Regions from separate parts of the Homo sapiens genome. Here region 2 is linked to region 1. The links come from fine-mapping of genetic effects on gene expression. A gene starts in region 1. The other region holds a variant in brackets. All regions are shown on one strand. Distances are between the middles of the regions. Region 1 holds the start of PPP3CA (protein phosphatase 3 catalytic subunit alpha). Region 2 overlaps PPP3CA (protein phosphatase 3 catalytic subunit alpha).

Region 1 (2,500 bases):
CTATTTCTGTCACAGCAGCTACACCCTACCAGCAACCACCCCCCGGGCGCCCCCTCCCACCACCGCCACCCCCGCCGCCACCTCCCCGCGGCTCAGCCATTTGCCAACTGACGCCCCCGTCAATAAAAATGCCCCAAGTGAGGCTGGGTGGGACGCGTGGGGGAAGGGCGCCGCGGGGGCGGGGGGTTCGCGGGGTTCGCGGGTTGCACAATATCCTAGAAGGTCCGCGGCTGGAGCGGACAGAGGAGAACCTGGGGCGGGGGAGGGGAGGAAAGGCGAGGCGAGGCAAGCTGCCCTGGCGCCTGCGGCACACGGTGCACCCAGGCCACCGCGGCGCTCCGCTTACCTTTCACCACCCTGTCGGTCGTCGACAACTTGGGATCAATTGCCTTGGGCTCGGACATCTCCAGCTGCCGGAGGACAGCGACGCGCTGCTCGTCCGTCCGACTGCACACCCCGACCGGACCGGCGGGCCAGACACTCAACGCCGCCGCCGCCGCCGCCGCCGCCGCGCTGCAAACCGCTCGGCTGGAGGTCTAGGCTCTGAGCTGGCTTTAAAGTTGCTGCCTTTTCCGCGCGTCCCTCCTCCGCCGCCGCCGCCTTCACTCCTCCTCCGCCGCTGCCGCCAGCCCCGCCGACTCGCTCCGGGCTGCGCGTGTGTGGTGGTTATTTATTTATTTTCTGAGCACGCCTCCCGGTTCTTCTTTTATTCTTGGGGGAAGGGGGATGGGGAGGAGAAGCGCACACACGAGCACCCACCCCGGCACGGAGACCCAGCACCGCGGAATGGAGCCCCACGCGCGCACACACGGCCAGGATTAAGACCGATCACATGGGGAAGGCCGGGGGCGAGGGAGGAGAGGCAGGGCCGCCGATGTCAGTGCCACCAGCCGCACCTTGGCGTCCCCGGCGGCGGAGAGGCGGCCGCCGCTGCTGCCGCTGCTGCTGCCGCTGCCGCTGTTGCTGCTGCCGCTGCCCCTGCTTCTCCACACAGAGCGCCGCCGCTGGTGCCGCGGCCGCCGGAGACGTCCCGCCGCCGCGATCGCCCGCGCTCGCCTCTGCCTCCCCGCGCCGCTCCTCCACTCACCAAGGCACAGCCGCCGAGCTCGGCAGACACAGTCCCGGGCACAACCTACCCCCCTCCGCCGCCGCCGCCGCCGCCAACACCGCGCCCGCCTCCGCCTCCTCCCCTTCCTCCTCCCGGCCCCCGCCTCTTGCGCGCCTGCAGCCTCCTCCTCCCCACTGAGCCCGCCCCCGACCTCCCGCCCCGACGCCGGAGTTCCTCGCGTTCATTGGCTAGAGGGCGCATCACTCAGTGCCAGGTGGCGGCCTCCCCGCTTGTCCCGCCTCCCGCTCCTCCTCATTGTCCCCGCCCCTTGCTCTGTTTTCTTCCAGCTGCCGGACCAGCGGGCCTGCCGCCTCTACGGACCAGTCCCTGCTCAGGTGTCACTTTTGCTGGCAGGCCGAGATTAGGGCAGGAGAGTGGGCAAGGCGTCGCGGCCAGGAGGAGAAGGGCTCTACCACGCCACCCTCCTTTGGCCTCCGAACGCGGACCCCGCACACACACACCCGCGCCTCTTTGGCAAGCGTGCCTTGTCGGCTGGGTTAAGCCGCAGTGTGAGTAGCCAAGTGCAGAGGGTGTCTCCGGGTGTGTGCGTGGCCCACAAGAGGGCAAGAAGAGAGAAGGCGGGGATAGGAGGGAAGAGGGTGGGGGTGAGAGGCAGCCCTGAGAGGGCGGAGGAAGGAAGAGGCTGGGAGCTCGGCGCCCGCGGCGCAGCTGCCGTCGCTGCCGCAGCTGTCCAGGGAGGATCGCCAAAACGGCGACGAATAAACAACTTACCTTGCGGAGAAGAGCTACGACTGCGATGCGGTGTACGGTTGTTTTTGCTTTTGCGTTGGCGGCTTAGGGGCTGTTACTGTGTCCCACCCAGGCGTGCACACCGAGCGGCGGGGCGCTGTGGAACGCGGGAGCGGACTAGCGGAGGAGGATGCGGACCAAGCCCCAGCGACCCAGGGCAACTCGGAGCTACCTCGGGCAGCCCTGCGGGTCTCCGAGGAGAACCGAGGAGACGGGAGAAACATGGGAGAGGGTGGCCTTTTCCCTGTTCACACACACATGCACGCAGCCACTGGCCGGGACAGTTGACACCCATCTTCCTTCCCTGCTCCTTCCAGTCATTCTACACCCGCTTGGTGCTGCCAGTGCGGGCAGGGCCTTGGAGCCCAAAGCGGATCCCCACACTTGTCCCTACGGTCGGAAGGAAAGTAGAGGAGAGAAAGTCAGGCGCGGCAGGGCTAAGAGCAATAGTGGCCCAAATGTTCCTGGCCCGCCTGCTGCGCCACAGAGTCTGAAAAGCGGGTCTCCGTCTACCAGAAGGTGACCTCCACACAGCCCCTCTCCCCGACCAACTGCAGCACCCAAGGACTGGCAACGTGGTTGGAGCTTTTGGGGGGAATTATGAAGAAATCTGAATAAATTTCTCACCCTTCATGTTTCCTG
Region 2 (3,014 bases), 40 kb before region 1:
CTGCCTCCTCCACCTGACCACCAAGGCTCCCCCTCCGGAAAGCCACAAATTATAGTGCTCAATTGCAGCCAAGAGAAGAAAGCACTTGGAGGTAAAGCCAAAGTGAGAGTGAAAGAAAAATTTCCACTAAGAAACCACCAGTAATAATAGATATATGAGCTACAGAAAAAGTAAACAAATATGGGCTGTACACCCACCACCTTCACTTCTCGGAAGAATAAGAGAAGAGAGAGAACACAAAAAGACTCGTATTCTGACTTGGGGGAAACAAAATTCAGCAGAAGCAAACCAAAAAAATAAACAAGCTGAGCTACAGATTTCATTCTCTTTGCTCTGACTTACTGTAATTCTGAAAGTTGATATATCGAGCATTACAGACTTACTGACAAAAAAACCAAATGCAACTCCCTTATTTCATATAGACTGCTTATTTTGTGAAGGTATACTCTGATTTTTTTTTGTCTGTTTGTTTAGTTGTGGTAGCTCCTTTAGTTAAGATGTGAGAATTACAGCACAGAATAGGCAAGACAAAAACAGTGAGTCCACGGGAGGATGAGGATGAGTGCTGTTTTCCTTCCTGGTAGAGAGCTGCTTCAGTAGTATTTATTGAAGGATTATATCTGAGGGAATGCATGCTATGTCTCCTCTCAAGAACCAATGCTACTGGTGGTATTGTAGGTGTTACAGCTCTATCAAAACACCAAGTAATTTTTCCTAGCAAAAACATTAAACTTCAATCATGCTGAACAAAGACTCTAAAATGGGATTAATCACTGCACTAATTTCACTTTGAACCAAAAAAAAAAAAAAAAAACAGATTCTGTTGGTACAGTGTATTTATACAAATGACCCTACCTTACGTGGAAAACCTGAATGTCTGAGGGTAAGATATGTTTGCCCTAGCTCCACTTGTGATTACAGATTAAGTTTTCCTGGTCTGCAGGAACTGAAACACAGAATGTGTTGAAATGAGAATAGCTGCCATATGTCAAGTATTTGGGAGCTTTTACCTTCGAAACAATTCTGAGAAGGTGGTTTGGCAGAGCAAAAACCTAGCAAATCAGATACGTCACCATAGTTGGCTGACCTTATCAGCTGAAAATAAATCTTCATTAGTCAAACTCTAATATATACAGATAAAGAAGGTAACTCCCTAAAAAAGTTTT[T/G]GCTTAACAAATTACTTATCTTGATTATGTAACAAATGGTTGCCATTCTTACTATAAAATGTAGTTACAACTGGTCATAAGTCCAGTGTTAAAAACACTAAAACATGGTCAAGTATAAAACAGTTTTTGGTGGAAATTTTCTTGGATGTTTCTAAATCTACCAGATGTACTTGTGGCCAACACTTGGAACACTTGGTGCCTAGTATGTGAAGCCTTCCTCCAGCGCGAATACCATACTGAATGCTTTAACACAAACCAAAGTAACCAAGGAGGTTATACTGAAGTATACACTGCTTTTTTAAGGACAAACTTCTCTTTTATAAAAATTCTATTTATACTCCAATTCCATGTTAAGTTAGGTTTCAGTAAAAGACACAATCTTCCACTTCACGATTTGAATCCTTATTGTAAACCTATTGAATCTGTTACCCGAAATAATTAGTGATAAAGAAAGCATAATGGTTACTAAGCAGTCAAGGGAGAATTTCATAATTACATATTACATTTTTTAGCCTTTTCATCTATTGGGTGTGCCTCCAAACAATTTAACAGTACACTTTATAATGACTCATGTCCACATATGACAAGGAATCCTGTATGTGCTCTCATAGATTCATACAACAAATGTCTGGCCTGAAATGTAAAATTAAAACTTATTTATCAAGATTTTAATGTATTTTTCACATACAAAAATCTTCATGTTATACAATGGAATTTTAAAAAATTATTTTCTTCAAAGATGAATAGACCTGACCCAAAGTAATCCTAAATTTTAAAACTGGAAAGGAGAAACTTCTCTATGAAAGATATTGGTATTACTATCATTCCATACTATATACAATATACTTGGTTACAGTTTTATCACAATACCTAGCATATAGAATGTTCACAAAATCCCCTTACATGTAATATTTCAGATTTTTTTTTCACAGACAAGGTCTCTGTCACCCAGGCTACAGTGCAGTGGCATGATCATAGCTCTCTGCAGCCTCCAACTCCTGGGCTCAAGTGATCTTGCAGCTTCAGCCTCCCAAGTAGCTGGGATTACAGGCACCCACCACCATACCCAGCTAACTTTTTAACTTTTTGCAGAGACAGGGTCTTGCTATGTTTCTAACTCCTGGCCTCAAGAGGTCCTCTCACTCTCAAAGCACTGGGAGTGCAGGTGTGAACCACCACACCTGGCCCATAATTATTTTTAATAAAGTGTTAGCCAAAATTCATTTATTTTGTAGTCACAAAAAATTTCATAATTCAAGTAAAACATACTTTCTGCAATGTGAAATTTTATATACATAAGATTAAACATTTTTCCATTAGCAAGAGGAAGATACTTCCCAGAAAAAGGAATCCAGAGTTTTCTACAAAGACCTCCTGGTCGGGCATTGTGGCGCATGGGCAACACAGGGAAACTCCGTCTCTACAAAAAAATACAAAACTTAGCCTGGCATGGTGGTGTGCGTCTGTGGTCTTAGCTACTTGCGAGGCTGAGGCAGAAGAATCACTTAAGCCTAGGCTATTGAGGCTACAGTGAGCCATGATTGCACCACTGCACTCCAACCAGGGTGAAGGAGCAGACCCTGTCTCAAAAACAATAATAATAATCATAATAATAATAAACCTTCCCAACCCCAGCCCCACCTTCCTCTGTCATCCCTTTTCTGTACTTTGATAGCAAGGCCTTTGTCATCTATGGAACAGAAAGGAAACAAAACGATACTACACATCAGGTATTATCTTGGTACTTCCTGTTGCTTCCAGTTACAAGGGGCTTTATTCCTGGGGATATTATAAAATGACAAAGCTTTCTACTTGATAATAATCCATAAATAAGAGACTATAAGAAAC

What was found. PIP is the estimated chance that this variant, and not a neighbour inherited with it, causes the effect. A credible set is the group of variants that fine-mapping cannot tell apart.
Region 2: its variant is the best candidate, but not a certain one, in a credible set for the expression of PPP3CA in fibroblasts (GTEx, PIP 0.78).

What each region holds. Positions count from the first base shown.
Region 1 is chr4:101,346,393-101,348,892 of GRCh38, forward strand. It overlaps PPP3CA (protein phosphatase 3 catalytic subunit alpha), which reads right to left and starts at 1,134. Exons shown (of 14, transcript NM_000944.5): 1 at 347-1,134. The coding sequence starts at 404. It overlaps PPP3CA-DT (PPP3CA divergent transcript), which reads left to right and starts at 1,385. Exons shown (of 2, transcript NR_033874.1): 1 at 1,385-1,617; 2 at 1,932-2,491. RefSeq lists silencers at 1-289, 760-1,369.
Region 2 is chr4:101,306,373-101,309,386 of GRCh38, forward strand. The region is part of intron 1 of PPP3CA (protein phosphatase 3 catalytic subunit alpha); the gene reads right to left. Among named protein-coding and RNA genes, the nearest start is that of MIR1255A, 23 kb to the right of the region's middle. The variant T/G (reference allele first, on the strand shown) is at 1,167.